Homo sapiens: one gene and its partners. The protein of the gene in region 1 purifies or fractionates together with the protein of each later gene. This does not show direct contact. Each region holds a gene or a part of one and is shown on either strand. Other genes may lie near its edges.

The links.
Region 2: the proteins of GLI2 (region 1) and STK36 purify together in Homo sapiens (affinity purification with western blotting, with the first as the bait; one study listed by BioGRID). This does not show direct contact.
Region 3: the proteins of GLI2 (region 1) and ZSCAN18 purify together in Homo sapiens (affinity purification with mass spectrometry; one large-scale study listed by BioGRID and IntAct). This does not show direct contact.

What each region holds. Positions count from the first base shown.
Region 1 is NC_000002.12:120,948,787-120,952,438, forward strand, and holds part of GLI2 (zinc finger protein GLI2), read left to right. Parts: intron 1-2,456; coding exon 2,457-2,659; intron 2,660-3,652. UniProt on the Homo sapiens protein: Functions as a transcription regulator in the hedgehog (Hh) pathway. Functions as a transcriptional activator. May also function as transcriptional repressor. Requires STK36 for full transcriptional activator activity.
Region 2 is NC_000002.12:218,695,984-218,699,635, forward strand, and holds part of STK36 (serine/threonine-protein kinase 36), read left to right. Parts: intron 1-543; coding exon 544-618; coding exon of another isoform or gene 619-651; exon of another isoform or gene 652-1,014; intron 1,015-1,055; coding exon 1,056-1,230; intron 1,231-1,479; coding exon 1,480-1,627; intron 1,628-1,870; coding exon 1,871-2,018; intron 2,019-2,618; coding exon 2,619-3,365; intron 3,366-3,652.
Region 3 is NC_000019.10:58,083,289-58,085,878, forward strand, and holds the end of ZSCAN18 (zinc finger and SCAN domain-containing protein 18), read right to left. Parts: intron 2,092-2,590; coding exon 1,397-2,091; 3' UTR 568-1,396; downstream 1-567. UniProt on the Homo sapiens protein: May be involved in transcriptional regulation.

The DNA of each region.
Region 1 (3,652 bases):
CTGAACAAGCCACGTAGGGCCACCGGCATCTGATTACAGGCTACTGTGACCTCAAACCCTGGCCGGCATCCTGCAGGCTCTGGGAACCTGCCGTGCCTGGAGTGTCTGGGGAGGACCGAGAAGTCAGGACAGAAGGCACCTTAGCTATTCTCTCAGCCTGTAGACACCCTGCATTTTGCTGAGCCACACTCAGCCTTCCAGAACTTGTATCCTTCAGCCCAGGTCTGCCCCCAGGAGCCATAGAGGCGTGATGTTGTCTCAGAGCCTTCTCTTCACAACCCACCCATCCCGTGGCAGGATGTGAGTGTCATCCTGCTGCAGTCACAGGCTGGAGCCCACAGGACCTGCCCTTGTCCAGGGGTGCATTAGTCTGGTCCCACTTCTCCTCTCCCGGGCACACATAGCAGCCCCCGCCTAGGCTAAAGCTATCTGTTAAGCCCTCCGCATTTCATGCAGTTCCCATGCAGAGGCACCCACCTCTACAGGCAGGCTGTGAGTGAGAACGTCTTGAGGTTGTGACTTGTGACTTATTCCACAGTCTCCCTCCCATTGAGCTCAGTGGCTGGCACACAGACATGTGGCTGTCACTGATTCTGAAGGTACCTCTGAGCACCTGCATGACGCCAGTTCCATGCCAAGTGCTGAGCATGCAGAAGAGCCTCGGACATGCCCTGCTCCCAGGCAGAGCCTGGGAACCTGGCAGATGCACCTGTCAGCTTGAGCCTGGAACAGTGCACCCTTGGGGAGCAGAGAGAAGGGATCCTGAGCCAAGAGAAGGGGCTTCAGGGAGGGTGCCACCTGCTGGGCTGACAGGGATGAGAAGGAGTTTGCCACCACAGTATAGGGTGCAGGAAGGCATTGGAGGCCAAGGATTGGTGTAGGCAAAAAGGCAGAAGCAGGTTCGTGGGATCTACATGAGCAGGGCAGTCACGTCTGCTGAAGCTAGACAACCAAACTGCGGAAGACTCCCTCCAGGCCTGGCACAGCGGCCTCCCAGGGGGGTGTTTGTGAAACCCAGATGTGAGGACATCTGGATGTCACCTGTTTGGGTCCTGGTTTGTACTGTACTGTAAGCCCAGTTTTCATGCACTATTGAGCATGATCAGTAATTATCTCTGGTTTGCTCAGCCAACAGACAAATCATTTCCTCCCTGAAATAACCAGTTCCAGCAGTGGCCTTTCACACGTCCAGCATCAATCCAGTGTGAAGATTGGGAGGGCCTCCCGGGCAATGCTAGGTTAGCCCTCAAAGTGTGGTTCTAACCCTCTAACAGCAGTTCTCCTTTCATGACTGCCTGCCATGTCTCTGGCACAGTTTTGGGGACTTTCATCCTCACGACAACCCTATGAAACAGACACTATTATGATCCCCATTCCACAGATGAGGAAACTGAGGCTCGGAGAGGTTACAGTGTGATGTGGCTGGGATTCTAACCCAGGTTTGTCTGATTCTAACACACTCTCTTTTCTTTGCACAATGTCAAATTATAGACTAAAGAATAAAAATGAAATCTTGGTAAATGTGGTTCCTGGTGACTTAGCTGTGGTTTTGCAGCTGCTTCACCATAAAGTCTGATTCATCTTTAATGAGTGAGTTTTGGAGTAGATTACCTCAAAATACACCTGCAGCTGCATAGAGGCCCCAGGTCAGCAGGCCTGACATAAGGGCCTGAGGTCACATCGAATGGATTCCATGACTCTTGGTGGGCGGACTTGGGGACATGGGGGTGGGCCCTGGCCATGCCAGCCCAAGCCAGCGGCACCAAGCCCAATGCACACCTGACTATTGGGGCATCTGAGAAGGGTGGTTCTGTTAGCGCTAGGAGGAATTCCATGGAAGGAGAACGAGGAGATATTCCAAGATTTTAGTTAGGGCTCATCAATTTCAAAACTTGCCTTGAATCCTGACCCTGCGGCCGAGCTGGTCACACCAGCAACCAACCATCCAACTGAAGCCAGAAACTCTCCACTTGCAGGACATCTCCTGATCCCTCTCTTTTTCACATATCCTGTTAGCAGTATGAGCTCTTTGCGTTTTACCCGTGGTATTCGTATTTTCATATTCGTTTTCATACATGTTTCTAGCATGCAAGCCTGTGCCTAGCCCCGAGGAGGCACTGGGGAAGCCACAGTGCAACTGTGACGTGTGGGCGGCCTGCTGTGCGTGTGCTCCAGCAAGTCCAGTCGCGGGTGCGAGGTCCATTCTCCAGCGTGGAACTGGCCGGCGGGTGCACGCACCAGCGTGGAGCTTTCACTCTGCATTCACTGACTAATGCTTGAGAGTTCAGACTGTAATTCACAGATGACCAGGGGAATGTCGGTGTAGCAAATAATAAGTGCAGGTTGTTCTGGAAAGTCTTTCCAGGAGAGACAAGGACTGTCCATGTTGGTTTTGGGGTCTTGGTGGGGTTCCCTCTGTGTCCTCCTTCTTAGACGGCTGCCCATTGTCTCTGCAGGCCCCCTGCCCTCAGCGGCAGCCCTGTCATCTCTGACATCTCCTTGATCCGGCTTTCCCCGCACCCGGCTGGCCCTGGGGAGTCCCCCTTCAACGCCCCCCACCCGTACGTGAACCCCCACATGGAGCACTACCTCCGTTCTGTGCACAGCAGCCCCACGCTCTCCATGATCTCTGCAGCCAGGGGCCTCAGCCCCGCTGATGGTGAGTAGGGTGTGGGGATGGGGAGGGGCAGCTAGGGCACTGGGGCAGGGCGCAGCCAGCCTCTCTCACGCTAACACTGTCAACTCCTCAGCCTTGGTCCCCTTGAATGGTGACCAGGCTGGCTGGCGTTCCTTCACACTACTTCCAAACAACAAGTTTTTGGGTTTTATGCTCATTAAAGAGCCTTTGGTAAGCACTCTTTTGCATGCAAACCATATATGATCTATTGTAATAATAACAGTAAGGGTCTATCCAGGTAGGTCCTGTGTAGCTGAGAACCACTGGTTGTAACCAACCAAAGCCTGCAGAAGCTGGTGTTAGGAAAGGGGATGTTGTGTTGGAGTGTCTCATGCAGAAGGAAGGCGGAGTGGGCTGGCTGCTGCCTGCGTCTCTGTTGGATCTGCCCCTTGCAGGTTAACGCAGGAGGCCTCCAAGTGGCAGCCCAGGCCCTGGGGCTCCGGGGATGAAGCTGTGGCATTGTGTTCAGATGCCTGAGAGAGAACATTGATTGGCCCGGCTCAGAGATCAGATGGCCACCCCGGTGTGACTAATTTCAGCCAGAAAAGGGCAGGGTCACATGGTACAAATATGTCTTTATATGTATAAAGCAGATCTAAAGTTTTACACTTCTAGTCCCCACCCACCCCACCAACAGACACATGCAAACACATATTAGTAACCCGGACATTTAGGGGCCAGTCCCACCATGCCGTCTCCCTGGGAAGTGCACCCCCATCCATAGCATGGCATGGCCCCGTGCCGCCCCTGAGAGCGCTGTTAGCCACTCATTGTCCCCATCCTTGAAAGCAGCCAAGTGCAACTTCTCAGAATTCACGAAGCTAAGACTTGACCTCTCAGGCTAGAGGACATCTGCAACTTGAACTTCAGAGCCCCATGGGCAGAGGCTCTAGGAAATGGGGTCCCAGCGAGTCTCTTATCACTACCAGCATTCTCCCCGAGAGGAATGCATCCTCTTCCAACTGGTGGGTGTGA
Region 2 (3,652 bases), about 98 Mb from region 1:
CTCCTGAGTAGCTGGGACAACAGGTGCACACCTCCATGCCCAGCTAATTTTTGTATTTTTAGTAGAGACGGGGTTTCACAATGTTGGCCAGGCTGGTCTGGAACTCCTGACTTCCTGATCCCCCCGCCTCAGCCTCCCAAAGTGCTGGGATTACAGGCGTGAGCTACCTCAGTGGCTGAATTCTTTATAATTTATAAAACATTTTCACATGTTATCCCACAACACACTTGAAATATAGACACACCAATGTAATAATACTCATCTGCTTTTTCTAGACTAAGTTAGCCTTCAGAGAGGTTGTATCACTAGTGATAGCACTAACACTCATCCAGAAGTCTAAGTCAGAACTTTGGGAGTCATCAGTGACTGTTCTCTCTTCCCCATTATTCCCCCACCGAAATGGTTCCCCCAGGCCCCATATATTCTACCTTCCGGTTGACTCTCAAATCTGTTCCCTCCATGGCACCATCACTGACCTGCCTTGGTTTAACGGACACCCCATTCCTCTTAGGCACCTGCATTCTTCATGTTTCTCTCTGACAGGTTCGGTTGACTCCACCAGGTAGTTGTGGATTCTATGATGGCCTCCTTATCCTTCTGTTGCAGCTCCTCACTGAGGTACAGATGGATCTTGGGATGGATGGGAAGTAAAGAGAGAGGAACTGGGCATTTTGGGGAGCCTCTGGACCAGAGGAATGAAGAAGCAACCCACAGCCTTCCCTCTCAAGCTACTGTGCCTGTGATAGCCTTGGAACTTCCCCGCCTGCCCTCAGTACTGACCCTTTGAAGGAAACCATTCGCTGCGTCCCCTGGGATCCAGTGGGAGATAAAATGAATTCCCTGGGTTTCAGCAGACATACACATGAGTTGTGAGGTCAGAGGGTTAAGGTTTGATAAGAAAATGAAATAAGACGACAGGGAAATACTAGGTGGGAAAGCGGAAGGAATTATTTCTGGGACTTCCTTTACTTGTAAGTCAGGGACAGGAATGAATAAAAGCATTTGGATTCCTGACTTCTGTCTTTCCCCCCGCCCTCTTTCACTTTTATCTCTAGCAGGGGAAGGCTAGCCTAATCAGGGATATGTCCAGTTCAGAAATGTGGACCGTTTTGTGGCACCGCTTCTCCATGGTCCTGAGGCTCCCCGAGGAGGCATCTGCACAGGAAGGGGAGCTTTCGCTATCCAGTCCACCAAGCCCTGAGCCAGACTGGACACTGATTTCTCCCCAGGGTATCTTTCTATCAGTATCCTTTTTGGGAGTGCATTGATCTCTCTTCAAGAGGAGGCAGCCCAGAACTGGGTTAACCCACAGAGGTTTATTTTTTTTGCTTTTGCCTGGGGACAGGAAGCAGTGTCTGCACTAGAGCTGCTCTAAGATGGGGAAGGGACTGAATAGGTGTAGCCCTGGGAGCTGTGGGGAAGCAGGGGTATCTGGGCGTCTTGCCTGTTCCATTGGGTCTCCATTTTTGGTGTTACCAGGCATGGCAGCCCTGCTGAGCCTGGCCATGGCCACCTTTACCCAGGAGCCCCAGTTATGCCTGAGCTGCCTGTCCCAGCATGGAAGTATCCTCATGTCCATCCTGAAGCATCTGCTTTGCCCCAGCTTCCTGAATCAACTGCGCCAGGCGTGAGTTTGAGCTAGAAGAGAGCCACAGAGTCAGCAACGGGGAGGGAGAAAGAAGAAGGCAGGAAAGAAGTTACTGACAGATTGAGCTATAAAGCAAGAAAGATGAGATCAGGTTTAGGCTGGAAACCTAAGTAGTGGCTGAGACTGTAGAAGGGGAGTTGGGCAAAGGAATTGGAGGAGGGAGGGAGGAATGATAAAGGTTAAGTGAACAAGACCAAGTCTCTTCGACATTCCTCTCCTTAGGCCTCATGGGTCTGAGTTTCTCCCTGTCGTGGTGCTCTCTGTCTGCCAGCTCCTTTGCTTCCCCTTTGCGCTGGACATGGATGCTGACCTCCTTATAGGTGTCTTGGCCGACCTCAGGGACTCAGAAGTTGCAGCCCATCTGCTGCAGGTACTTGGGCAGCTAGCATGAAGGTGGGAGAGGAAGATAGCCAACCTTGTATCCTCTAATTTACTTCCCAGCAGCTCCAGGGCTCTTCTAGGCCCCTGTAAGCATGGAACAGCTGGCTTGACTCAAAAGTTGGCGTGGAGACAGTACTCAGACCTGCGCATGTGGTGGAGGCATGTGGTGGGAGCTGGGTTGGTGCCTCCTCCTCTCCATCAGTCCATCACCTGGTTCTGTTGGTGCTCATTGGGGAGAACATCCTAGTCTAGGCACTGAAGACTCACCTCCTTGGCCAGGAATCATGTTTCTGGCAATTCTTGGCATTGCACAGTGGGTCTTTGTTCTTTTGTTGTTTCTTTTTGTTTTTTCACAGTGGGTCTTTGAAGGCAGAGACTGAGCCCTTGCAAAGTAAGGAATGATCTTGGAAAGAACCTGCTCTCTCAGGCTCCACGTTGTGTCTCATGTGGAGTGCTGTGGGGCAGGACTTCCAGCTCTCTGTGGCATTTCTCACCATAGCTTGGCTTTTCTCTCTCCCAGGTTTTGGGCTTCTTTATAGCTGCATATACTCTCTCTCTCCCTGAATCCTTTTACCTCCTGTTCTCTCAGGTCTGCTGCTACCATCTTCCGTTGATGCAAGTGGAGCTGCCCATCAGCCTTCTCACACGCCTGGCCCTCATGGATCCCACCTCTCTCAACCAGTTTGTGAACACAGTGTCTGCCTCCCCTAGAACCATCGTCTCGTTTCTCTCAGTTGCCCTCCTGAGTGACCAGCCACTGTTGACCTCCGACCTTCTCTCTCTGCTGGCCCATACTGCCAGGGTCCTGTCTCCCAGCCACTTGTCCTTTATCCAAGAGCTTCTGGCTGGCTCTGATGAATCCTATCGGCCCCTGCGCAGCCTCCTGGGCCACCCAGAGAATTCTGTGCGGGCACACACTTATAGGCTCCTGGGACACTTGCTCCAACACAGCATGGCCCTGCGTGGGGCACTGCAGAGCCAGTCTGGACTGCTCAGCCTTCTGCTGCTTGGGCTTGGAGACAAGGATCCTGTTGTGCGGTGCAGTGCCAGCTTTGCTGTGGGCAATGCAGCCTACCAGGCTGGTCCTCTGGGACCTGCCCTGGCAGCTGCAGTGCCCAGTATGACCCAGCTGCTTGGAGATCCTCAGGCTGGTATCCGGCGCAATGTTGCATCAGCTCTGGGCAACTTGGGACCTGAAGGTTTGGGAGAGGAGCTGTTACAGTGCGAAGTACCCCAGCGGCTCCTAGAAATGGCATGTGGAGACCCCCAGCCAAATGTGAAGGAGGCTGCCCTCATTGCCCTCCGGAGCCTGCAACAGGAGCCTGGCATCCATCAGGTATACCCTACAGCACTTATGAACCATGATGATCAGGGCCCCTATAGTTGACAACATTTCTCTGAGATCATCTGTAAGGAATTGGAATCGGGACATGGAGAAACTTATGCCGTGTTTCTCCCAGGGACAGTGTCTTGGAGTGAGTTTTCTAGTTACATCTCCTGCCTTGGAGGAGGGAAGGGAGCTAGAAGAGGGCTCCAATGGGCTGGGAAATGTCTGAGATCTCAAGGACCACAGTTGATCTCTTCTAGAGGCTGTGCAGGAGGGAGATGAGGGAAGACTAAGAG
Region 3 (2,590 bases), on another chromosome or scaffold:
ACAGCAACACCAACACAGGACAATCGACTGTTAGTAAATAATTTTTTTTTCTTTTTTTCTTTTTTTTCTGAGATGGAGTCTTGCACTGTCACCTAGGCTAGGGTGCAGTGGCACAATCTTGGCTTACTGCAACCTCCGCCTCCCAGGTTCAAGCAATTCTCCTGCCTCAGCCTCCTGAGTAGCTGGGATTACAGGCACGCATCACCACAGCTGGCTAATTTTTTGTATTTTTAGTAGAGACAGGGTTTCACCATGTTGGCCAGGCTGGTCTCAAACTCCATGATCTGCCTGCCTCAGCCTCACAAAGTGTTGGGATTACAGGTGTGAGCCACCACGCCCGGCCCATGAATAAGTACTTACTAAGTCTCTGTGATTTGGGGGTCATTACAACAGACTGCCTGCTCAAACACAGTGACAGAAAAAGAGGCACCAGTTTCTGTATCTACAGGGAGCAGTTAAGTTTATGCGCAGGGAGCAGTTAAGTTTATGCGCAGGCAATGGGAATGATACTGTAATCTTGAGAATAAATGCAATCAATGAAAAGATCACCTTATGTAGCCCAAGGAGTTTAGTCTCCTTTGCTCAGACAGACAGATCTTTATTAGTGTTTTCAACTTATTTTGCTCACAACTTCCCAGCAAGAAATGTCTTACATTGCAACCAGTTCTCACATTTAGATGTATGGGTGAAAAGTTTCACAAAACAGTATTTGCCTTTACTACATGATGCATTCTGGCCTACTTTATTCTGCTTCATTGCTGTGTAATGCTGGTGACCACTTGCTAATTGATTTCCCATTTTACTAAATGGGCTGGGACCCACGGTCTGAAAACCCTGCCTTAGGCTGCAAGCATTTCTGTGATCTCTGCGAGCTACTCCATATAGGTAAACACACGCGAGGTAAACTAGGAAACAGCTTCTGCTTTTGCAGATTAGAAGTGAAGTTGACATCACGCCAAGTACGAAAAGGCTAAACAGCTGACAAAATTTCCACTTGAGCAACCCTGGGGAGCGCAAACAGGAGGAATCGGGGCAAGGGTGACTTGAAGAAAGCACTGGCAGATCACGCACTTTAAGGCAACTCTACACTGCACAATGTCAAATAACCTAGCATGGGGCGGCACTAAATGGCTGCAGGAAAGCCGAGTCTTCTTCCACATCCGGCGGCTCCCCTCGGATGCGAGCGCTGGCCCAGGGTGTGTTTACAGAGGTGAGGGCTTCCCGTGGACCCTTCTCGTTGGGAGCGCTTAGCCTCAGGAGCGGATTCAGGGCACAGGCAGAGGACGTCCACAAACACCACAGGAAGCCGCCACCCAGGGGCGTGGAAAGGCCCAATGCCTCGTCTGGGATTCACGGCCGGCAAAGCGGCCCCTCCGGAACGGGACAGCACAGCGGCTCACCTCTGCGCCTCTGGGGGTGCGGGGGGAGCCTCGCCCTCCACGCTCTCTGGGGGACCGCCCGCCCTAGCCCCCGCCTGGGCTTCGCGGGTGGACGGTTGGGGGCCCCGGGCGCCCCCCAGCGCGTAGCTTTTCTCCTTCTCGTGGGTCTTCTGGTGCTCGGCTAGGGCCAGGCTGAAGTGGAAGGTCTTCCAGCAGCCCTGACAGGCGTAGCGCTTCCGGCCGCCATGGCTGCTGTGGTGCTCCATCAGGTGCGAGAGCCACGCGAAGGCCTCCCCGCACTCGCCGCAGGCATAGGGCTTCCCGCGGGACAAGCCCGGCTCGTCAGCCCCAGGGCCCTGCCCGGCCTCCAGCCCTGCGCTGTCGCCGGAGCTAGAGACGCCCTCGAGGCTCTGCCCGTCCCCATCCTCGGGGTGCGGCCTCTTGGTTCCCAGTTTCGCCGTGCCCCTGTCCGGGGCAGGCTGCTGGATGACGGACTGCCTCTGCGATCCGGTGGCAGAGTCGGACTCCGCGTCCTGGGGGTCCTGCGGGTCCGGGGCCTTCCCAGGCTGCTCTTCCTCCTCCTCAGTGGTGCCCGACGGGGGATCGGCAAGGGCGTCCCCAGGGGGCGCCTCCGTAGGCAGCTCAGGCAGCACCCCCGCGGGGGCGGCCTCCTCGCAGGCGCACCCAGCGCTCTCCTGCCGCCTCCCGCCTTCTGGAACAAGGTCAGAGCCCTAGCGTGAGCGCCCCGCCCAGGGCCAGGGAGAGGAGGACCCAGCCGAGCCTCAGCTGCCGGAACAGCGCACAGGGCTCCGGGCTCTGGATCCCCGCGGGGCTCACGGCTGTTTGGAAGCAGCGCTGTCCCTCCCAGGCAGCCCTGCAGCGCATGCCCCGCGCCTGCTGCTGCAGATGTGGGACCTGGAGGCCTCCAACAACGGAGGCCACCGACAGGACAGGAAGGACAGCCCCACTGAGCCCGGGTTCTGGAAACCGCGCCTTTGGAGGTCTCCACCTGGCCACTAGCTTGGCCACAAGATGCACGATGCAAGGAGAGCCTGCTCAGAGCGCACCCTCCTGGAGGGAGGGGCCCGGCTGCCAGCGAAGAGAGTGGGGTCAATAGCTAAGGCCAAACCCCCCAGCGACAAGCCCCCTGGCGACAGGCACCCAGGGCCCTCCAGCCCAAGTCCGCCTCTAGGTGTTCTTGTTGGTGTGCT